Linked DNA regions of Homo sapiens: region 2 is linked to region 1. Evidence: fine-mapped expression QTL. A gene starts in region 1. The other region holds a variant in brackets. All regions are shown on one strand. Distances are from middle to middle.

Region 1 (12,358 bases):
TAGAGAAATGATTCCTGACCCTACAAGACTAAATCAAAATCCTGCTCATATTATCAGATCTAACAACAGGCTGAGACTAAGTACTCACCTTTGTCACATATCAAGTCTTAAACCCATAAACAAAGTTCACTGTATTAGTGGCCACAAACTGAGTCCTAGCACTAGCTGGAGGTTGAGCAATCAGTCTGGTCACAAACTTAGTCCTCAATTGTGAATAGATGTACCCATGGCACTGGGCACATTATGGTCACTAACAATTAGCAAAGACTGAACTCTACTACTGATACCGAAATGCCTGCTACACTAAGCCAGAGTCTAAGTGCCAGACTGACAACAGGCAATGAACACTCTGAACTCAAACCCTGGCAACATCCTGATCCCAAAACCCTGATTACAGCCTGAGCCTCTAAAGCTTTCAATCTGGATTTTATGTGTTGTTTGTTCTCATCTCAACTCTATCCACTGACTGACAAATAACATCAACAGCTAATCCAAAAAACCTGTTTACACTCTTAGCCTTAAAACCTTCTTCATAGTAAGCCTTACCTTGGTTATTGGTAACTCCCAAACTCTGGTACAAGTTTAATCAGATAGCACTACCACCAATACTCAGTGAACACAAATGCTACATAAAGTCATAGTGGAATTACTCCCTCCAGACTCAACTCTGATAGTGGTCAAATTGAAATGGCTAATACAGGTCACCGACTGAGCCCTGCTCTGGCCACAGAATGAGGGCCAACACAGGCCACTGTGAGTTAGCTCCATAGAACATTGTTGATATGAGCTATGGACAAAGACAGAATCCTGACACTGGCTAAAGTCAGAAACCACACCTTGAACTTACTCTAGCCAAATATGCATCCCAAATCCTGTTCATATTCATCATTGAAATCCTGGCCACAAACTGTATCATAATTTTGTCCATATATGAAATGCTAACTCTGGTTTGAGACAAGGCTCTAGGGCACATGACAGGTAATGTCCTAACATGGCAACAGACTGAATATTAGACATTGACTGTGCCTTACCATTGGCCACGGACTGAGACTTAATTATTGGACCCAGAATAAACTCTAACCATGAATACGAATTGAAACTTAACCTGAAGAAAGACTGAACATAAATCCTGTTCATATTCTTACTTCATTTTTTCCTAGGCAACATCATCAGCATGAAGACTAATCCCAGGCAGAGCCATGGTCCTGGCCTTTATTGACTTTCAAGTCTAGAAATGAAAGTGATTCCAACATTGATCAAAAACTAAAGTCAAACATTGAGCTGAGCCCTAACCTTGGGTGTGGTCTAAGTCTGGTCCACAGACTGAGCCCTAACTCTAATTTTAGAATGAGGCCTCTTCCTACACACAGACTAAATCCTAATTCTGGCCAAAATTTGAACCCAAATCTTGCACCTTGACTTCATAAACCAGGCCACTCTAGACTTACAGCAGCCTCAGAGTGAGCTTTAACACCCTGAGGCTGCTGTTAGTCCAGAGTGGTCAGAAATGCACTTTAATCTGTGACACAGACTGAACCATGGCTCTAAATCTGGGGCCTAATATTGCTATCAGGCTTAACCCTAAGCTTGGTTTGATGGTCTTCTGATCCTGAATCCACAATGGCCTGTAAAAACAGCTACAGACTTACTAAATCTTAACCTGAGAAAAGATTGAAGCTAAATACATTCCACATTATACACATGAACCCTGGCCTTGACCTGGGCTCTACACTGGCTCTGGATACAGCTCTAACCTTGACTTCCTAATTGTTCTCTGAATCCAGCCAGACTGTTTGACCCTGGGCCAGTATTTCACAAATTCATCTTATTATATAACAACAGACCAAAGAGTATCACGTTTGTATATACACATACAAATATATGTATACATTTGTGCTTATATATAATATATATTATATATAAAATTTCTGTATGGCTTATTGGAGATATAGATATGTTTTATATATTATATATAAAATTTCCATATGGCTTATTGGAGATATATATATGTGTGTGTGTGTGTATTTATATCACCATACAGAAATAGCCATACACAGCTGTGACATACACAGTAAGAAATATTACTTATCACAGCTATGTATTTTAATTATTTATCTTGTTTGTTGATGGCTTCTTCCTAACAGAATATAGCCTCCAAAGGGAAGGGATGTTGTATGTGTTTTCCACTTCTCTATTCCCAGCATCTAGAATAATGTCTGGCACATTATAGGTACTCAATAAAAACTTGTTATATTGATGAAGGAGTAATTTCTTCTTACTATTCTGTCCTGCTACTTGACCTCTCTGTAATATATGCCAGTAATTCTACTTTGTTTTCTCTTGGTTCATCTGTTTGGGCATTCCCTCTCAGCTTCCTTGGAAGGCATCTCTTCTTCTACTTGCTACTTGAATATCATTATTTTCCAGGATTCCATAATCTTTGTCTTTTTAAAAACTATTATTCTAAATACTCTCTAAATTGGCTGGGCACAGTGGCTCACGCCTGTAATCCCAGCACTTTGGGAGGCTGAGGCGGGTGGATCACTTGACGTCAGGAGTTCGAGACCAGCCTGGGCAACACAGTGAAGCCCCATCTCTACTAAAAATAAAAAAAAAAATAGCCAGCTGTGGTGGCAGGCACCTGTAATCCCAGCTACTCGGGAGGCTGAGGCAGGAGAATCACTTGAACCCAGGAGGCAGAGGTTGCAGTGAGCCGAGATTGTGCCACTGCACTCCAGCCTAGGCAACAGGGTAAGAAACCGTCTCAAAAAAAAAAATACTCTCTAAGTAAAGTTTAAACAATTTTTCACTTATTTAATTGCCCTCTATATTATACTAATGTCTCCCAAATGTTTAGTTCCAAGCAAGACCTCTCTCCCAAGCTTCCGACCGGCATTTCTCAGCAGCCTATCAGGCATCTCCAACCAAAAGTTCCACAGACTCTTCAAATTTTAAATGTTCAAAACTGATTTCCTCCTATTCTTCACAAAACTTGCTATTCTTTCTAGGTTCAATATCTCAGTGAATGGTACTACCATACACTTAGTCTTCCAAGTCAGAACTTGGGAGTCGTAATGGACTCCTCCCCGTCTCTCACTTTCCACATCTACCAACTCCATCTGATTATTCCATTTCCTGCTAGAAATACTTTGATGAACAGGAACCCATGTTTTAACTCACCATTAAAACCCAAAACCTGTCATAGTGTATGGAACATAGTAGGTGCTCTGCAAATACTTTGAAATCAATGATCAAATCAAAGTAAAGAGTCATGGAAAAAAAGATAAAAAGAAAGGAGACAAAGCTGAGAAAAGAAATTCTGCATTTGATTCACACAATGTTTTTCTGGTGGCCATAATACTGAAAATGCCTTGTTTCACTCCTTTTTATGGCTGAAATGAGGTGATTTTTCTTTTTCTCTTTTTTCTTTCTTTTTTTAATTTTTTAATTTTTTTTGAGACAGAGTCTTGCTCTATCACCCACTACACTCGAGTGTAGTGGTACAATATCGGCTGACTGCAGCCCTAACTTTCCAAGCTCAAGGGATCCTCCTGCTTCAGCTTCCTGAGTAGCTGGGACTACAGGCATGCGCCACTATGCCTGGCTAATTTTCTTGATTTTTTGTAGAGACAAGGTCTCATTATGTTGCCCAAGCTGGTCTCGAACTCCTGGGCTCAAGCAATCCTCCCAACTTGGTGTCCCAAAGTGCTAGGGTTACAGGCATGAGCCCCGGCACCCAGCCGATTTTTCTTTTTTTAAAAAAGCAAATTATTTTCCTGGAGGAATTTAAAAGTATAAAAAGTATTAAAACATAATATAGCAATTCAATTACCACCCTCCAGAATGATTCCCCATAATACCCTAGCTATGTGTTCCCAGTATGTTCTATGTGTATATGCTTTAAAAAATAAACACTATATAAGCACAAAAATTCCTCTGATGGTTCTCTCCCACTTTCAAGTTAAATTATGAACTAATTGATATGACCCCTTGTTGCTGCCTGATCTAGTCTCTGCAATATGGAACTTTTGCTATTGTTCTCTGCACTCTTTCATGCCTTTATGCCTTTGCATATGCTTTGTATAGAATATGGTTGACCTCCCTGCCCCAAATCTGACAAATATTTTACTGGTTCTTCAACCAGTTCTCCAGAAGTAGAACAAGTTCTTCCTCCTCTATGTTCCTATAGAACCCTATGTAGACTTCTTTACAGCATTTTGCACATTGTATACTCATCTATTCCTCCCCCCAGATTCTCCTCTACTACAACTCCCCTCACCTGGATTTTGAGCTACTTGAGGGTAGGGACTATTTTTCCAATTCTGTGGCAACAGTGCCTAGCCCAGAGCTTTGCACAAAGCACTATGCTGAATAAATGGTTGAATTTATTAAATCGTCTTCCTCCTTCACTTATCTTTTTAAAATATTGGGCAATTACCTCAGCAAAATGCAATTCCCCTGTCTTTCCCTTCATTTTACTCGTGAGTCGAAAAGTTGTCCTCATCAAGAAGTTGTAGTAATTCAACTGTAACAAGGCTACAAGGATTCATCTCTAACAGAGAAAAAAAAAGGTCAAAAGTTGGGAGTGAAATTAGCCCTAATAAACAACCATTTTCCTCAACCTTTAAGTCACTTGGAAGTGCTTGGCATTCCCCACCTATGTCTTTATCCAGCTCTTGTAACATATTTTTACTCAAAAGGTTAAGTTTCTTAAAGACACATATAGTTACTCGTTTGTACTTAAGTTGTATTGTCTATCTGTTCTAAATTGTTATTTATAGCAGTTTATGTGGCCACTGTTTTTCATGGCAACAACATAGCTTCATTATGGATTAAATAGGCTTCTTCTGGGCTGGTGTAGATCACATTTCTATGCCTATTTATGACACTGTTTCCAGGGGGAACTATAATTTCCAATTAGAAAAAAATATATACATTCTTCCATACCTTTCAAGTGATTTTAATGCAGGTGGTTCACAAGGAACACACTTTAACAATTTTAAAGGACTATAACTCTCAATTAAAATTCTAAGCTTACCAAAGAATAAACATCATCTTTTGAAAAACACTTAAAACTCAATAACAATTTCAAATCACGATAGAAAGTGCTTCCCGCAAAATGCTAAGAGCTTAACCGACATGAAAATAAATCTAGAGCCTTCGTCTGTCCCCACAAGCACAAACCCATAACCCCAAGAGAGATTCTCTAGACAGTGCACCCAAACTACAATACCCAGAATACCCTTCCCCGTCTGAACGCTGGGGACAATCGGAAGGGGAGGGGAAGAATTGTGCGTATAGAGAAATAAGTGTCCCGCAACTCCATCTCCCATAATTCTCGGTCCTCACTTGTGTCTGTCTGCCAATGTCAACACGAGTTACCCCCAGGAAGAACAGCCTCCAGCGACCTCAAACTACATTTCCCATGAAGCCATGGGCTCGGGCCTCCGGCTTCCCCGGTGACCAGTAGCCAATAGGAGACGCCGCAGTGGGCACCCTGTGTGTGAGAGTCCAGCCTTGGGCCAGAGTGCCGGGTCTAGGCCTGGAAGCGCGAGGCGGGCATTTCGGAAGAGAGTGGCGCGGCGTGGGGCGCCGCGAGGGCACTACGAGCCCAGGAACTGCCGCGCCGGCCCGATTTTCCGCGGCTGTATAAGGACTAGCGCTTCGGTAGCCGGGGAGCTGGAGGTCAGAGAGGCAGAAAGCCCCGGTGGCCGTGGCTGGGGACTGTGGGACTGAGGGGGCCTAGGGAGGAGGGTGCTTCCGGGGCCGCGGTCCTCAGCGCCTAACTCCACCCAGCTCCACCTCTGCAGGGGAGGGGGTATCGGGACTGGGAGTCGGGGGTGGGCTTTTGAGCTCTAGGCGCCAGTTCTCTTGAGCCCGGGAGCGCGCTGTCTTTGCTCTTTTTTTTTTTTTTTTTTGGTCCAACTCGCCCGCCCCTTTTTTTTTTTCCCACGACGCCGCCCCCCTCCCCCTGGCTCTGTGCCTCCTCAGAGGTCCGAAGTTGGGGTTTGCGTCCAGGGTTTTGCCTAGGCGGTGACTGGACTCTAATTCTTACCGCAGGAATTGGGTGATCTCTTTCCTCTTTTCCCTCAATTTGTATTTCAGGTTTGGGCACATAACCCTCCCTGCGCTACACTCCCCATTTTCTTTGGGGCATGGGAATTCCTTGCCACGCTCAGGGCGTGACTTTTTTTTTTCAAACTTTCTCTTTTTGCCTCCTTAATTGATCGCCATCTCTTTACTGGCCCCTCAGCCACCTGCCACTTCCCCCACCAGGTCTTTGAAGTGGGGAGAGTTTCCCCTCAATTTCTAGAAGGGATGGGAAGCAAAAGAGGGAAGGAATCTTGCTTTTGAGAAATGTGTGTTTAAGGTTCAGTGCAGGGTTCTGGTGAGAGTAAAAGGCAAGTTAGACTGGTTATAAAAATCCAGCGCTTTAGGGGTTTCCAGCAAAGACTGATAGCACTAATGTTGACAAACATTTAGGGGGCACACCTTTATTCTACAGAATAAAGTAGACCGTGTGAAACAGACCATATTAATCATTGTATTATTACAAACGTGTGCAAAAAACGCTAAGAGGGGTCAGTGGAAGAGCATACTGATGGGGGTGGTGAGTTCATCTATGGAAGTTCAAGCCTAACCCGGGAAGTGCTGAAGCCCTCATCCGGCTTTCAGGCTTTGTGAAGGAGGTGAATTTTAATCTGGGCTCCAGCAGAGTACAGGGGATTTGAAGTTGTCAAAGAGGAGGGAGAAAATGCTTCCTGCTACTGAGATTGGACTTTGAGAAGGGTAAACAGAAGAGGGAGCACTGTGAGACAGGTGGGCTTGCCTGATTGGAATAAAAGATATCAGCACAAATATACTGGGAAATAAATAGGGTGGAGAAGCTTGGGGTCATAATAACATGATACTTTGAAACATACACATAGTTTGGATATTATTCTGTATCAAATAAAATTGAAGGCAAAAATTAAGATTGGATGATTTTTCTTTTCATCCTAGGGAACCTGATTTGAGATCAATTCTTGGAGAACACAAAGAAGTGTGATGGTATGTTCCAGGTGTGAGTTTAAATCCAAGAAGAAGCTTGTCTTGCAGATGTTTTGTTTGTAGCTATTCTTAGCTACAGTCTATAGCTGTCAACTTTAAAGCCTAGAGACATCGATATATTTTCTTAAGAAATGCATTTGCTGTCCCCGTGCATCACATTATCTGAACTGTAGTCATCTCATTGGGTGACAATAATGACTGCTATTTATTGAACCCACATAATGTCCTAGTCATCATCATAAATACTTTGTTGCATTATCTTGAGTGTTATGAAGTAGGTACTATTATTCCTGTTTCTTTTTCTAGAAGAAAACACTAAAATGCACAGAAGTTAAACAATCTACTTAAAGTCACATAGATTATAAGTTGAGTTGAGGTTTGGGTGTACAGATTTCTGACTCCAAAGCCCATGCTCTGTTCAACATGGTTTGCTGCTCCCAATGTTCTTTCTTGTTCTTGACTTTCCAGTTGTGGTAAGGAGAGATAGGTATAGTTCATCATCCTGGCCAAAACCCAAATGATTCACTTAAAATTTCTATGTCAGAATGTATTTGCTGTAAAGTAGCTGCCAAAACCAAATTAACTGTCATTGCAACTGTAGCTAATTGTGTCTGCCAAAACCATAGTCAGTACGGCTATTTCTGAATTAGATGATTCTCTTTATAACACATATCATACCTCTAAGCTATTTGGACCTTGATAGCACTTTGGATGTATTTTATTTTAGCATTTTAAGAAGTTACCTGGGACACTAGATCTCTTTCATGACCTCTGCCCACGTGAAGTGTTGGAGAAACAATGAAGTACAAGGTGTGAACTCTTCCTGGGGTCTAGCTGGGGAGCTGGATGCCCACAGTTCTGAGATACTGTAGTGTGTAGTATAACAGAGACAGGTACAAAATGCTATGGAGGGATAAAGGAAGGTGTGACTCACTGTAAGGGAGACTCGGGGAGAAGGCTTCCATGAGGAGGTGACATGAGATAGGTCTTGAAGGATAGTGAGTTTGCCCCAGGCAGGGAAGGAGTGGAGGGGAGGCATTTCAGATAGAGGAGTCAGTCTGTGAAAGATGTGTGGCTGTATAAGAGTAGGGCATGTTCATTCAATGTGGAAGAATTCAGCATGGTTGGAGTGCAGATAGTTGAGTAAAAGGAAACTGTAATGGGTAGGAGAAGAGTCTGGAAAGAGGTTGGGGCTGATTTGCAAAGAACCTTGATTGCAATCCTAAGTTGGAATGTGCCCCCATAGGTCAGTGGTTCTCAAAACGTAGGGCATCTGCCAGTGGTAGTTACACTGTGCTCCCACAAACATTTTAATTTTACTAGTTACATGTTCAAATATGTCTTAAAAAACATAAAACTGAACTAAGCCATCACATCTAAGATTACTTTGGATTTTACTTCATAAAAATAGAAAGTGAACCAGTTTTCAGTTCATTTAAAGACAAATATTAAGTAGTAATAGTACACATTGTGTGTGAATATGGTAAAAATCACTAAGTAATACTCAGACTGAAATTTGGGAAGTGCTGCTTGTAGGCCATAAGAAACCATTAACATGTTTTAGAAGAGCACCACGATCAGATTTTTACTGTAAGGAAAATGACAGTGGGAAGGATACAGTGGAGGTGGATATGATGAGGCTGCTACTCTGTTCCACAGAGAGACAATAAAGACCCAAGAGTAGTGACGTGAGCGGAGCGAAGAGATTTGAGAAACATTTAGGAGGTAAAATTATTAGGACTTGGTGGATGTTAATATTATTTTGTCAGTGTTACCAGAATTGTTTTAAAAGTCTGCATGCCCCCCTTGCCTCTTGTCCTTTATATTGTATGGTGAGCAATAATATTGCCAAAACATGCTATGTTTCTATGTTCATTAAGATTACAATGGAAGCTATAGTTACCACTCGAGTGGATTTGGATTACACACAAACATCCTTCCCACCTTACTCAGTGTCCTTGAGAGCAGTAGCACAAATATTCAAGGCACTGATTAGGAATATGACCATGATCTGTGACCCTTAGGCATGCAAGAAATTCCTCAGCCTTTAAGACTCAGCTCATATGTCAACACCTCTGTGAAGCCTTCCCGACAGCCCTTGCCCAACATACATGAATGCACGCACAAGGCAATGTTAGGCCTCGGGCTTCCACAGGACCCTGCACTTAGTTACCTCCGTCCTAGCCTGTACCACACTGTAGGGTGTCGGTCTGTGGATGTCTCTGTGTTCCCCACTAGACTGTGAACTCCTTGAGGGCAGGGACCAGGTTTCATTCATCTCCATACCCATAGCATCCAGAAGAGCACTTGACACATGGTAGTCACCTAATAAATGGTTATTGGGTGAAAAGAATTGATAAACAGATTTGCATGAATATAACTGGGGACCTTGGTAGCACAGAGTGCCAAATGCTATGAAAAGACTAGCTGTTTGCTACATTTGCTACTTTTGCTGAAGAAAGGAGTAAATTAAAGTGCCCATAATTTCATGAAAGACCTACTTTTTCCCTCTTTTCTTCACTCTCCCCTGGTTATCTTACCTTTTTCTTTCCTATCATTTACCTATCCAGGCACCTATTCCTTAGCCCTGCCCATTACTTTGCTGCTCTTGACAGAGTTCATCTTCCTCCTGCCCTGATACTTTGCCAGGAAACATCCTTCCTTCTACCCACCCAAGTCCAGTACACTCCGTCCTTGACATCACTCTCAAGTTCATCTCCTACTCATAGACTCTGCTGCTGGGACTATAATTTGATACAGCTCTTCTGGAGAGCAATTCGTCAATATGTATCAGAAACCTTAATAGAATACAGCTTTTAACCTACCACTTCAACTTCTAGAGCTCTATGCTGAGGAAACAATCATGATGTTTCCAAAAATTTAATACTCAGGACATCTATCCCAGAGTTGTTTATACTAATAGCAAAAACAACAAAAAAAAAAAAAAGAAAAAAAAGAACATCTTAAATGTACAATACTAGGGATTTGAATGAAATCAATTGTGGTACATTTATAGAATGGATTACTAAGTAGCCTTGTAAGTTGATTTTACCAAACAATATTTAATGATGTGGAAAATTGTTTTTGATATATTAAGAGAAAATTCACATCATAGAACTCTCAGTACAGAGTGACAGATCCCAGTTTAAAAACATATACATAATACACACACACACACGCACACACACACGCACACGCACACACACATCTGTGTAGGCATACATAGGAAAAATCCTGTAATGGTAAACACACAAAAAAATATTAATAGGGGTTTGCTGCAAGTAGTAAGATTGCATATGACTTCTACTTTTAACCTTTTGCGTATTTTTATTTTCTAATCTACAGTATATTTGTTAATTTTTAAAAAGTTATTTTGACCAGGCACAGTGGCTTAACACCTGTAATCCCAGCACTTTGGGAGGCCAAGGCAGGCGGATCACCTGAGGTCAGGAGTTTGAGACCAGGCTGGCCACCATGGGGAAACCCCGTCTCTACTAAAAATACAAAAATTAGCCGGGCGTGATGGCATGCGCCTGTAATCCCAGCTACTCGGGAGGCTGAGGCAGGAGAATTGCTTCAACCCAGGAGGCGGAGGTTGCAGTGAGCCAAGATTGCACCACTACACTCCAGCCTGGGAGACAGAGTGAGACTCTGTCTCAAAAAAAAAAAAAGTTATTTTAAAATGTTTTCCCGGTGTCCACCATTGTCTTACTTTGGGGCATACCTTCCACCCCCCAACACACATGCATCACTTCTAGCCTGGATTACTGCTGCTTCCAGCCTGCTTCCCTTCTAGTCTACTCTTTACCAATGCTGACAGAATGATTTTTGTAAATCACAAATCTAAAACCATCTGGTCTCTATATAAAATAGTTCAAAGGCTGTCCATTGTCTTCAGAGTAATATCCAGACTTCTTAGACTGCCTGATAAAAGCTTTGAAAATCAGCTCCCTGCTTGCTCCTCTAGTATTAGGTTTTCCTTCTGTGATTTACTTTTTTGGGGGGTCTTTGGCCAGTGGCAGGCACATAATAGGTATTTAATTAATGTTAGCCAATGTTGATGTGGACTGTATGGATTAGCTATTTTATGCCAGGCAATCTACTGGTATTTAATTCTCAGAGCAAAAATATTAAACACATAAAATAGTTATTCCTATTTTACAGATGAGGAAAACTAAATACATCAAAGCGAGAAGAAAAGTTATCATAATAAAGGGCATTTTTTAAAGAGAAAATTTAAAACCTCCTGCCATAACTCTGTTTTCTTTATTTTCCAGCAATCCCTGCTGGTCCTTGTCAGGAAGAAAACAGGCTTTGTACACTCCCTTGGGCAAGTTATATGTGACCACAGCATAACAAGAACAGCCAACTGACATGATCTCACCCTGTCGTGGTTCACATTGTGCTCATGTACGGAAATCTTTCCTTTGTGTACATAACACTTCACACAGGAGAGATGGAATAGCTCCAGTTGCTCTGTTTTTCTTTATTTTTTGAAATTCTGTGTCATTTGGGATGGGTATGTCAACAGAGAGCTACAGAAAACCGTGATAGAATTGAATGTACAAGAAACAATGTGTCTCATGGGAGCCGATGTCATTGGTTAATTTATTTTTTTAAATGTCATGTAGATGTATTTTCCAGCAATCTGTCCCCAGGGAAGACCTTGGTTGAATTCAATAGTTAATCCTACTTACAGAACGCAGCCCATGTGTGCACTATATTCTTGCATTGTTAAGTGATTTTAGACATATGTAGTGGATTACCATACGACATACAGTCGAGTGTATATAGGATATCTGATTTTCTCTACAATAACGTATCAGTGGTCATTCAGGATCCTGAAGTGTAGTCTTCCCTTCATTTTCCTTACAGATAATACCCATTGTGCAAAAATGGATGATTTCTAAGGGATGGAAGTCCTAAGCATGAGTCATCTGAGTAAAATATTTCTTTATAAGGAATTGTTACTTTTAAATACTCCAGGAAAAAAAATCTATAGTTTTCCTGCTACATGATCAAATAATTTGAATGTAGAAATTACAGATAGGGTTTCACTTCATTCGATGAATTATTGTAGGCTTACTATGTGAAAGCACTCCGTTAGGCACTGCACTAGATACTCATAAATACCCCTTTTAATGCCTTCTGTATAAAAAGAGAAAGAACAAGGGAGAGAGAGAGCAAGCAAGCACACAAGAGTAAGAGAATTCAAGAGCAAATAAAAGAGAAAATTTTAACAAGCGGGCCCATCTTATAAATGAAAATTCACCCAGCTGAAAACTGGGATATGTACCCGTGGGGATGT
Region 2 (12,358 bases), 350 kb after region 1:
AGCTGGTCAGTGGCAAAGCCAGGATAACAGTAAGTTCCTGTGTGCCTTGTCCTACATGAAAGAAGGAAAGCAGTAGTACAGATGATGACAAACAATTGAAAATCCACAAGCCTGTTAGATCTGGCTTTGGAATGCACTGGGTGATTTTTGGCCACAGAACAGCTTCCCTAATTAAGTCTGTTTAGGCCGGCGTGAAAATTAGTCTGTTGGCGCTGAACCCTTGTCATCTGAGGACAGTGAATAATCCAAACTTGACAGTATTTCAAGGAGTAAAAAGTGATATGAGATGAGAGTAGAGCAGGGAGCCTGGGCAGTCCATAGGGCAGTTTGGCAGTCCACAGGCAGTCCACATCTTGAAGCACTTGCTTTCACATTGAAATCTCCTACTTCTTCTAGCCAATTTATGGCTTTCATCTCCACGCTCCCTGTAGATTTCCTCTTTATAATAATATCCATGTCATCTAATGACAAGATGTGATAACTAATGTAAGGTTGCTTCTGACCCCTAATATTCCCACACTGAAACTCTATTAGATTCCACATTGACAGCCCCTTCTGACTCCAATCTACCAGCTTCTCACTGAGCCAAAGAGTATAAGGTCCCTCAAGAGCAAAGCAATTTATTTAAATAACACAGTAAGTAGATGGAAAAGTGTGTTGCATTCAGAAAGTCAACATTCTCCTGCTGAAAGTAAAAGGTCTGGTGTGGCTGCTCCTGTTGCGATGGTAGAACTGGCACAAGTCCCTCTGTCCCCTTCTATTGGGTCATTTCCCAGTTCATTTAAGTGGAACCAGTTAAATTAGTTTCTGAAAGTTGTATTTACAACAGGGCTGGAGCCTTTCTGTAGGGGAAAACCCAGGCTCTAGCTTACTGCACTCAACACCCGGGGACCTCCCTTTGGAACTGCCAGGAAGGACAGACTCTGAGAAGTTGACATGCCTTTGTCCAGATGGATGCACCAGAGCAGAAAGCTTGAGCTTCCCACCGTTTAAAGAGCTGCCCGAAACTCCCTTCTATTTCAAAAGGTTAAAGGGGTCTTGCCTACTGTCTAATGAGTAAGATCTTCTGGGACACCCCCTTATAGGAAATGAAACAATCTATTTCTAAGGTCTTGTTTACATCTTCCCCTTGCAGTGGTTGGGAACTCCTTGACTGTAGGACTGCTATGTGTGAACACGGAAATGCAAAGTCTACTCAAGCAGATCTTGAACTGCCATTGATTCCTTTCAAGTGATAGAGGTTTAATTAGTTGTGTAATGAGGCTGCCTAGGTGCCGAGTGTAACCTGCTCTTAAGGGAGAACCATTTATACTGCCTTTGAAGCCCACCAGAAATGGTGTCAGCTTGCTGCAAGAAGGGCTGAGCCAACTGCAGCTGTCAGATTGTCTCTGACTGAAGCTGAAGAGAATCAATGAGACCTTGAATCTTGTGGAGGAAGCCCGGATGGCGGGCAAGCTTTCAGAAGGGTGTTCTGAGCATTGAGCATTCTGCCAAGACAGCAAGGCTCTATATGTAGACCCAAATAAGATTTTGCTACTCTTTCCTTTTCTCGTGGCTCATTCTCTTCCTTAATACATTTCCTTTAGTCTCTCTTCCTTCAGTCCTATCTCTGAAAAAAAAAAAATCCTCCTTTCTAAGAAAAACCCTTCCACTAATTCCCCTCTCAGCCTCCTCCTCTGTCATCTCTTTATATGAATTGGCCAGTCCCTCCCTCATTTCTAGTGCCTCCCTCTGCAGGCCCCTTCCTCTCTGACTTCAGTGATGCTCTAGACTCCACAAGCTTTTCCTTCAGGCCTCTGGGTTCTCAAGTTGCTGAAGCTTGCTTTCCTTCCCTCCACTACCACACTCATTCCTTTAAATCTTTGAAATCTGGCCTCTAACTCCACCCTTCTACCAAATGGATTCTTTAGGGTGGTCTTCAATGCATCCTGATCACCAACTAGTGTGACTTTTTTCTTCATGTTCCCTCTCCTGACCTCTCCTCAACTACTGTTTGTTTGTTTGTTTGTTTGTTTAAAAAAGCATTGGCCACCTGTTCTGCCATCAGAGCTATCTTAGGAAATAAATTTATCATTCTTACCATCAAAAATCTTCAGTGGCTCCCTAATGTCGGCTAAACTAAGGACAAACTCCTTATCCTGGCTTTCCAGGTCATGATCCTCCATCTGGGCCTCACTGCCACCACCCTCCCCAATCCCTCCCTGATATATACTTTTTAATCTGGCCTAAAATACTTTCTGTTCCCAGTATACATTCTGACAATTCTCGCTTCTGCAGTATTGCTCACACCATTCCCTCCACTTACAAGGCCCTTTCTCATATTTCACAGGTCTAAACCCAATTCAATGAATATTTCTTGGGCACCTATTTCATGCCAGAGACAGATCAGATATTACTTCCTTTGTGAAGCTTTCCCTGGTCCTATAGACAGTGGATCCCTACAGAATTTTTGGTTTTGGGAGGAGGGTATAATCTCCTCATGGAACTTCAAACTCCACAAATACTTTGAATACTGTTTTTGCCCTTTATTAACTCATATGCTCTGGAAGGACAGATGCCATGTCTTTGTATTCCTGGAGTATTTAGCACAATGCTTTCTTCATCATGAACATTCAATAATTTTCTGTCAAATAAATTCAGACTGTGCAATTTATAATGATTTCTACTCATGATTCCAGTCATTTTCCTGAGACATTAAACCTACTGAGTCCTTGCTCTCCCCAAGCTCAGCCAGATAAATGTTCCCCTTTTGACTCCTCTGTTGGGTAAGAATGGTAAGACTGTAGGAACACCATATGCCACCAGTACTAAACAAGGTATGCGAGAGCAACACCTAAAAGAGCATGCTATTTCAAAAAAAGAAGCAACACTGAAGCTACAGAGAGTATCAGATGCCAGAACCAGCAAAGCCACATGCCAAAAAATTGAAGCCAAGGTTGTGAGTGTGGTATCATGTAGGGGATGAGAGAAGCATACAGGTCTCCTGAAAATTTGATGTCCAAAATTTCCTGTACAATCGGAGCTCAGCAGTAACAATTCTCCCAAAGATATCAAGGCTCCAGAAAATGCTTAGACTTGAGGTCCTTGTGTTTGGGGCAGCAGTAAATCTACCTGAAAATAAAAACCTTCAAGAAGTGGATGCTTAGAGAGAAATGAAAAGGCTGAAACATCGGAAACACCTTTGTTTCATGGAAATGACACTAATTTAGTGAAAAGGGGAAGCTAGCTTTAGAGGAGAAAAAAAAAATAGCTCCATCAAACCACAGGTGACAAACAGCTCTTTTTCCCTGTAGTTGAAAGCAAGTGAAATGAGCAGCCAGTGTACCTCACAGGCTAAGGAACATATTAGGATTTGTTTTTGTTACTATTTTAAGTGAGAGCTGACCTTGTGCTTCTCATTTCTGGAATAAGAACACTGTTTCCAGAGGCATCACAGAGCAGTAGAAAGATCACAGGCTTTGGGGCAGAGACATCTCTGGTCAAATTCTAGCCTTGTGCCTATTAACTATACCTTGGAAAAGTTATTGATTCCTGTAGCCCCAGTTTTCTCAACTGTAAAATGAAGACAAACATACCCTCTCTGCAGGGTGATTGGAATGATAATGACAATAGCAGCAGCATTCATTTATTAGGTAGAAGGCATGCTAAGCTTACTTCATGCATATTATTATCTCACATATGCTACCACACAACCATCTGAGCTAGGTTCCATTAATATTAGCACTCCCGTTTTACAGGTGAGGAAACTAGAACTCTGAATAGTTAAGCGATTTATCCAAGGTCATACAGCTTATGAATGGCACAGCTAGCACTGAAATCCAAATCTAGATGTGCTCTTAATTCGCTACTATAGCCAATCTTGCTAGAGACCATCCCACGCCCCTCCCCACAGCGTTGCCCTGTGCATCCTCTCCACCTGGTGTTCATCAGAATCCTTTGCAGTGTCCTTAATAAACCGAGATAGTCTTCATTTATTTCCTCTTCATGTTTCCCCCTCTTTCAAGCTGCCATGAAACACAGACTCTTCTCATTTAAAGAAAATGCTTAGCTGGCTTTTGGAACATAATTCTTTCATTAGCAGGTCTCGCTCTGTCATCCAGGCTGGAGTGGAGTGGCGTGATCATAGCTCACTGTAACCTCCTGTGCTCAAGTGATTCTCTCATCTCAGCCTCCCGAGTAGCTGGGATTACAGGGTAACTTCCTGCAATGAGTCAGCTAAACATTCCTGAATCCAACCATTCTACCCCTGGCAAACTCCAGTATCTGATGCTCTATCACGTGTGGAAACATAAAGTCACTCACATCAGTTTCAACAAGTACACTGCTTAGTGAAATACGGGTCTTTGAAAACATACTGGAATTTGAAAAAAGAAACAACACATTGATGGTAATGTCTTCCTCTGAATGAATGTGTGTAAAACTGTAACAGGCACAAAAACCAAAGCCAAAGAATCAAAGACTTACATCTGTCAAACCTATTCCACAGAAGCCATTTCAATATCAGGGCTATTTCTTAGAAAATGTATCTCACAATTTAAATTTGAAAACAAAGCAAAGCACAAACACCAAGTAGAAGTTACACTACAAGGAACATGCAGGTCAGCCAGGTGTAGAAGATAAATGGTCAAAATATGATATGAAGAAGAAAACTAAGAAAGTACATATAGCAATTCAATCTCTACCAGGTTTTCTGAATAAACATTGGAATTTAATAGAATTAAAAATAACCTCTCATAATGGAAAAAAAAAAGGGAGACCATCTCCTAAAGTAGCTTCACCTTATCCCCGGAGATGGCAGTGGGGACAGTTATCAGCCTATTCCTTACTCCTTCTGTTGCTTCCAGACCATTGTTCCTCTGCCATATCCCAGGAACATTTACTATCCTATTACCAGCTACTTTGCTCTGTCTAGTGAGTCTTGGTTGATTAGACCCTTAACTTTGTTTTTCCAAGGCCACTGGCTGTGGCTTATTCCAGTAACTTCATCGTAGTAGTACTAATAACAGTATTAATAGCACACTTATTGACAGCTTGCTATCTGTCAGGCACTGCACTAAGCACTTTATATACATGGGCTCACTCAGTCATCACACAGCCCCGTGGGGCGGCTACCACTATTACATAAGATCATGCAGATTAAGTTCCTACCACAGAGTAAGCTCAATAATTGCTAGCTTTTATTATAAATGGTATTTTTCAATAGATCTGTGAAATACAAAGCCCACAAAAGGGATAGGTATGGGTAATCTTTTATCTCTTGAGAGCAACTATCCCTAAGTGGACTAAAACTAACTTGAAAAATGTTAACAAGGTTTAGGTTTTATGGGCAAGAAATATAAAAATCCTGCTCAACTGCTTTTAAAATAAAAGGCAAAACTCTGTTCAACAAACGAAAGTGAATAAAGAATAGTTTACTCTCATTTTTGTCTAAATAATGGAGAAAGGAACTAAGGGAAAGAGAAGACTCAGAGAAAGAGGGACCTTTCAAAGAAGATAACACAAATAGTGCATATTGAGAGATCTTGGATTGGATGGGAGGCAGAGAAAAGAGGAAGAGAAGCCACTCTCGATGTTTTGGGGGTTCTGTATCTGGACAACAGAGAGATGCTTACACAAACCACAGGTCCTTCTCTTTGCTGAAATTTCAAGTTCAGAGCCTCTCAAAAGTCCATCCTTGTCACTCATACCCCAGGAAAAAGAAGGAGAGAGAATAAAATCAAGCCAGAGGAAGGAGGAGAGAAACACAGAAGAAAGAGAAAAGAAATACAAAGCACAACCAGCATGGTCCGCCTCACCATACATCAGACACTGTTGGCAGAAGCCTTTGCTCCTTCTCCACTTCCAGCTTTGCCATCTTCATGCCACCTCCCAGTTAGCACTCAGAAAGCTGGGCACACCCAAGGTCAGCAACCCCACACTTTCTCTGACTTCTTCC[C/A]AAACTTAACCACACTCAGCCCAAGGGTGATGCAGTCTCTATCACTGCTGTCGTTGATATCACCCACCCAACTTCTCCCTGGGAAAATTAGGACTCTGTGCAAAGCATCTCTCCCTCTCAAAGGCCATCTCGGGGCATGGGGCCTGCCTTTTAACACCCAGAGATCTCTGTTGAGTTCGCACCACATTCATGTTGGACTCAACAAAATTGTCTGTATATGTATCTGGCTCAGTGTAGGGGGAGAAGGGTACATACTTCAGAAAATTGCTTCAAGTTGTACCAAGTTAAGCCCAGGGCCACATCCAAATAATAGGTTGAAGGTTTCTTATCTTTGCACTGTGGTATAAAAATAGTTTCTTCCTCTTGATCTTGATTCTTCTCTTTGGCAGTGGAAATACAATTCTTTTTTTTCTGAGCAATCTCTATTTTCAATGCAAGTCTTTAGCACACTAACCTATTTACACTTTTGAAAAAGCCTAAGACTATGATGCATTCTCAGACTTCCAGGGACCCTCAGCATTAGAATCCAAGTGTCCTTGCAATTCACTGATGAAGAATGGAGACAGGTGAATATTTGTTATCTGTATTATACAATGAACATTAGTGGTCAGAAGATCAAGGTTATGCACTGCTACATGGAAAGCCATTGTCTTAATGCATTGTGCAATATTCATAATAAAAGGTGAACATTCTTTTTGCAATGAAATTTCTCTTTCAGTCAGAAGGAGCATCTGCTAGGTGAGTAATTTTCTAGAAGGAATGGAATTTTACACCTGTCACAGAGACCATTCCCTATTAGGTCTTTTAAATTAGAAAAGGTTAATTATTTCATGTCTGGTTATAAAGACTTCATTGAGGCTTCATATGCGATATGATTAGGAGGCTATTATGACAAATATCTGATTGTTGGTGTGATAGAGATCACCACTGTGTCTTCTGCAGCTGCGCTGGTATGCCTAAACTGAAAGAAGAGCACATGTGGTGTTTGGTAATGAAGAGTAGCTAGTTGACATTAAGGAGTTCAGGGAGTTGGCATTAATCAAACACACATTACTGTGTCTTGTTCTTTGTATCCAAGAAATCAAAAAGAAAAAAAGAAAGTCTTGGAGTTTTCCAATTTTAGGCATGATAAAAACTAGTTTCATTTAGACCATATCAGATCATTTTTCCCAGATTTTTTTTCTCTATCACATTTGCAACACACTAATGTAACAACTGAGGTTAAAAGCCTTCAGGACTCCAAGTGTTGCTTCCATTTCCTAAATGACAGCAATGGCAGGACACTCCTCCAGATGATGTGGTTCCCATGGTCCATCAACTCGCAACCAGCATTGGTGCATTCCTCGCTTTCCTAGTCCCTTACCAGCTGCTCAGTTGGCCACCACATTCAACTTTGGCCTTGTGTCTACAACATACATGAATGGGCCTCCCTTCAAGGACTTCATTAATAGCCTTCAGCATCTGCTCACATTCCAAGCATTGGGTACTAACTCCAGAGAGGGACCGGCATATGGCTGCATTGTTCTACTTGTCGAAAATGAAAAACACAGGAATGTGCCCTCGACTTCTGAACTTTAAATTTCTGACTACTGCTGCCTTAAAACAAAAAATGTAAACAGCCCTGTTTGCTTGTGTGTGTGTGTGTGTGTGTGTATGTGTGTGTGTTCATGCATGTGTTTCTATGTAAATACATAGAAAAAGATTTGAAAATATTCACATCAAATATGCATCAATATGTTAATAGTCACCCATGAGGACTGAGATTGGGGGTGAGTATATGAGAAATTTTCACTTTTAATACAGTGTAAGTCTGTCTGCATTGTTTGAATTTGGCAACAATTACGCAATCCTGTTATTATTAAAAAATAAAATCTATGTAAGCATAGAGAAAAGTTGATGAGGACACACATCAGAGGGTTTAGAAGTGCTACCTCTGGAAGGTACAATTAGAGAGAAGGACTTTTGCATCCTTATAGATCATATATATTTTAAAATTTTAAATGTTGTGTTTTGGGCATTTTTGTTATACGTAACACTATGGCATTTTTAAATTAAACTTTTAAATTAATGCTTGAAACTATAGTTACAGAAAAGTATTCTAGACCTCATGGATTTTGTTAGTATCTATGACTATCAAGTATTCATTTGGTACTCCCATGTGCTAGTGATATGACTTTAAGTCTAACGATTTTTCTTTTCTTTTCCCATCACCATCGAATGACTTGGGGTTATAAACAAGTGCATAGTTATATGCGCCTTGGCCTGAATGGATAAAGTTAGGAAGTAAAGCACAAACTTTCTGTGCATTCTGTAGAATGTAAGCTTCATGAGGTGAGAGATCATGTCTGTTTTGCTCATCACCACACCTCTAGTGCCTAACATTTTTGCCTGGCATATAGCAGATGTCCAATAAAGGTTTGTTGAATGACTAGATGAATAAGTGTTCAAAACCAAAGGCAAAGTGAGATCTCTGAATGCAGAAATCTATGAGTTGAAATATCAGGGACCATGCTATGTAGAAGGTAAGAGAAGAAGAGAGGAGCACGGCTTAAAGAGACCCACTGAACTGGAAAGTAAAGAGACCTGGGCCTGGCTGGGAGCATGGCTCTCGCCTGTAATCCCAGCACTTTGGGAGCCTGAGCAGGCAGATCACGAGATCAGGAGTTTGAGACCAGCCTGGCCAAAAGGCCAGCCTGGCCAACATGGTGAAACCCCGTCTCTACCAAAAATACAAAAATAAGCCGGGTGTGGTGCCGGGTGCCTGTAATCCCAGCTACTCAAAAGGCTGAGGCAGGAGAATTGCTTGAACCCGGGAGGTGGAGGTTGCAGTGAGCCAAAGATTATGCCACTGCACTCCAGCCTGGGCGACAGAGCGAGACTCCAACTCAAGAAAAAGAAAAAAAAAAACAAAAAAGAGACCTGGGCCTAACTGACGGGATGAGTGTCTTTGGACAGGTACTTTCCTTTCTCTAGAACTCAATGTCCTCATTTGTAAAGTGAGAGGATTAGAATAAATCTATAGTACTCAAACTGTTTACAACAATAACTCATATTATTTAAAGGAAACACAAGACCATGTAAAATAGTTACAAGTGTAAAAATCCATAGAGAAGTCTGAGATGATGTTAACCAAGTGTTAATGAGGGTATTTGGGGAGGATTTTTTAAGTTTCATTATAGTTTTCTCCATTACTTGAATATTTCATAGTGATCATGTATCAGTTTTACAAAAACAAACATCATTGTACTATGTTAAAGTAATGAGCAGACTATGAAAATAAAAGAAATAAGAGAAGTATTACAGTGACCCAATAGGATTAAAAGAGAGACCCTGAGAGTTACAATCTCTCCTGGTAAGATCAAGCCTCCTCTGGACTTGACGCCTCTCTTAAGAACATCAAAGGGCCAGGCGCGGTGGCTCACACCTATAATCCCAGCTCTTAGAGAGGCAGAGGTGGGAAGATAGCTTGAGTCCAGGAGTTTGAGACCTGCCTGGGCAATATAGCGAGACCCCATTCTCCACAAAAAGTAAAAAAAAAAAAAAAAAGGGAGCCCAGTGTTCCACCTGCTCCTAGTGAGAGTGAGACCACAACTCCACCTCACCCCATCATTCCCATTATAGACCACACTGCACTACAGGACACACCAGTCCCAAGGAGAGGCTACATTTAAAACTAACCATCTGTTCCCCAGCCAAGAGATCATCAGGTTTCATCGTGCTCTAAATGCCTATTTACTTCAGTCATCACAAAAGTTCAAACCATCTAGATCATCCATGATCACTCACATGGAAATGAATTCCTGCACCTCCTCATCTCACTCAATCGACCACCCCTTCCCAACCCTCCCAAACCCTTTGACCTTTCTCTCTGCAAAATTCCCTACATTCTCAGCTTCTCCAAAATTTTCCTTGAACTTTTGGGTTTATCAAAAACTCGGCTCCCCTCTGAAGACATTGCTTCCTGTACAGCGCTCTCAAGTGGTGACTATTTTTTTTCTCATACTTTATGTACCACTGGACCCAGAGGTGGAACAGGTGTCCTCTTTGCTCCCCCTTACCACTTCCTGTGTGTAGACCTTCCCCAAACTGCCTGCCCCAGCTTCTTTCAATCACTTTGCTGTAAGACTAAGTTTCAGAGTGTGTTACCTGCTACACCTCCTTGTTGTTATCATCTCCCCTCTTCCTGTTCACTCTCCCTTATTCATTGATGATTTGAGCTTGTGGTTCACTGTCTTTTCACAACTGCCCCTGTCATCTTTCTTGGTGATTTCAATATCTATGTGGAGTCTGCATACATACATGCATGTGTCTGTGCAGACCTACATTCATTGTCTACATTGTGAATAATCCATATAGCACTCTGGTCTCTCAGCTGCTTGACCTCCTCCACTCCAAAGATCTTGTTCTCTCTTTCCATCCTTGGTCACCCACATCCAGGCTTATTTCCTAGATCTCGTCATAAACTACTGCAGGACCTTCAACATCTCAATTTTATTTTTAAAAAATTTCTTTTTAGTCAATGTTCTGCTGAAAAAAATCTCAATTTTAATCACCCCACTCTTTTCTCTCTCTTCCTAATTCCCTCTAATATCTCCACTCTAACAACCCTCCCACTGTTAATCATCTTTTTACCCTCTATCACCCCCTCATATCTTCACTTACATGTTTATTTCACTTAGATTCTACGGTCCGTTATTATCATCACTCCTTGGCATCCATCCTCAGCTCCCCAATTCCCTCTCCCATCATCACACCTACCTAGAAAAACTGGAACAAAGGTTAAGTCCAACTTTTCGTCTTGTCTACATCTGCATCCCAGTAACTGATCCTGGCTGGAGTAAGCTTCGTGTTAAGCTTTATGCCTAAAATCACAAGTGGGCTCTCATTCTCCTTAGAAACCACTCCCAAATTTGAGTCTCTAGCTCTGAACTCCTTCTTGAATTCCAGGCTCATATAACTAACTTCCTACTGAACATTGCCTCTTGAATGACTAACAGGCATCTCAAATTTAATTTGTCCAAAACCAAACCATGATTTTCTCCTAAATCTGCTGTCTTTCTGCATTTACCATCACACTTGTTGCTAACTTCATCCTTTCAGTTCCTCAAGCTGAAACACCTTGGAGTCATCTTTGCTTCTCTTTCTCTTGGGCCAACTCCCATTTCATCAGCAAAGGCTTTTGGGTCTACCTTCCACATATATTCATTACCAGATCACTTCTCACTACCACTATTGCTGCCATCCTGGTTCAAGCTCCCCTTATCTCTTGCCCAGATTACTGAAATAGCTTCCTGCTATGGGTTACAGTCTGTCCCCGCCAAAAATATATGTCGTGATGCTAACCTCCAGTACCTTAGAATGTAATCTTATTTGGAAATAGTGTCATTGCAGATGTAATTAGATAAGTTAAGATGAGGCCATACTGGAGTAGGGTGGGCCCTTAATCCAATATGACTGGTGTCCTTATAAGAAGAGGAGGGAGACACAGAAGGGAGATGGCCATGTGAAGGCAGAGACACACATGGAAAAAGCCATACAATGACAGAAGCAGAGATTGGAGTGCTGCAGCCGAAAGCCAAGGAATGGCAAGGATCAATGGCCACTGACAGAAGCTAGGAAGAGGCAAAGAGGGATTCCACGCAGTCGCAGAGAAACCATGGCCCCAATGACACCTTGGTTTCAGATTTCTAGCTTCCAGATTTTTGAGACAATCAGCTTCTGTTATTTTAAGCCACCTAGTTTGTGGTACTTTGTTAGGGTTTCCTAAGGGAAAATAATATACCTCCCAACTTGTTTCCTTGTTTCTACCCTTGACCACCCACTGTCTAGTTTCAACACAGCAGCTGGAATGATCCTGTTAAACCTCTAAGTCAGCTCATGTCTCTCATCTGTTCAAAACCCTGCAATGGCTCCACATTTCATTCCGAGTAAAAGCCTTACAAAGACCTGTAAGTCCCTATAAAAGCTGGTCCTCTGTTCCTAATCCAGTCCATTCTTCTATTACTCTCCCCCTCACTCACTCTACTTCAGTGACATTGGCCTACTTTTCTGCTCCTCCAGACATGCTTCCATCAGGTCTTTGCACTGTGTTCTCTGTTGTGACAAGTGCAAAGTCTCTGAGGCTTGCCTAGCTTTGAGGGTGACCAGCTTACTTGATTATGCAACTTCACATACAAAGAAGCCCACAGGTCCGAATTGAGGGGTTGGGGGAAGCACAGTGTTGTGAACTATCTATATGAGAAGGCCAAAGTGTTTAATGGCTAAGCAAACAAGACTTGGAGTCCAATAGGTCTAAATTAAGTGATCAAATCACTTACGATTTCTGGGCCTCAGTTCCCTCATCTATAAAATGGGAAAATAACGTTGTGAACCACACTATTAAATCAGATGGAGCATGCAAGGTGCTTGCCACATAGTTAGCAC

Direction of the effects. Alleles are on the strand shown, and positions count from the first base shown. SD is a standard deviation of normalised expression in the study named.
As copies of A replace C in region 2, the expression in putamen of the gene that starts at base 5,525 in region 1 goes up (moderate effect, 0.46 SD a copy in GTEx).

The links. PIP is the estimated chance that this variant, and not a neighbour inherited with it, causes the effect.
Region 2: its variant is the best candidate, but not a certain one, in a credible set for the expression of ENOX2 in putamen (GTEx, PIP 0.76).

The regions. Positions count from the first base shown.
Region 1 is chrX:130,896,376-130,908,733 of GRCh38, reverse strand. ENOX2 (ecto-NOX disulfide-thiol exchanger 2) reads left to right here and starts at 5,525. Exons shown (of 15, transcript NM_006375.4): 1 at 5,525-5,685; 2 at 7,003-7,050. RefSeq lists enhancers at 5,310-5,499, 5,120-5,639, 5,510-5,779, 5,640-6,159.
Region 2 is chrX:130,541,409-130,553,766 of GRCh38, reverse strand. No RefSeq gene overlaps it. Among named protein-coding and RNA genes, the nearest start is that of RBMX2, 150 kb to the right of the region's middle. RefSeq lists an enhancer at 1,163-1,212. The variant C/A (reference allele first, on the strand shown) is at 5,936.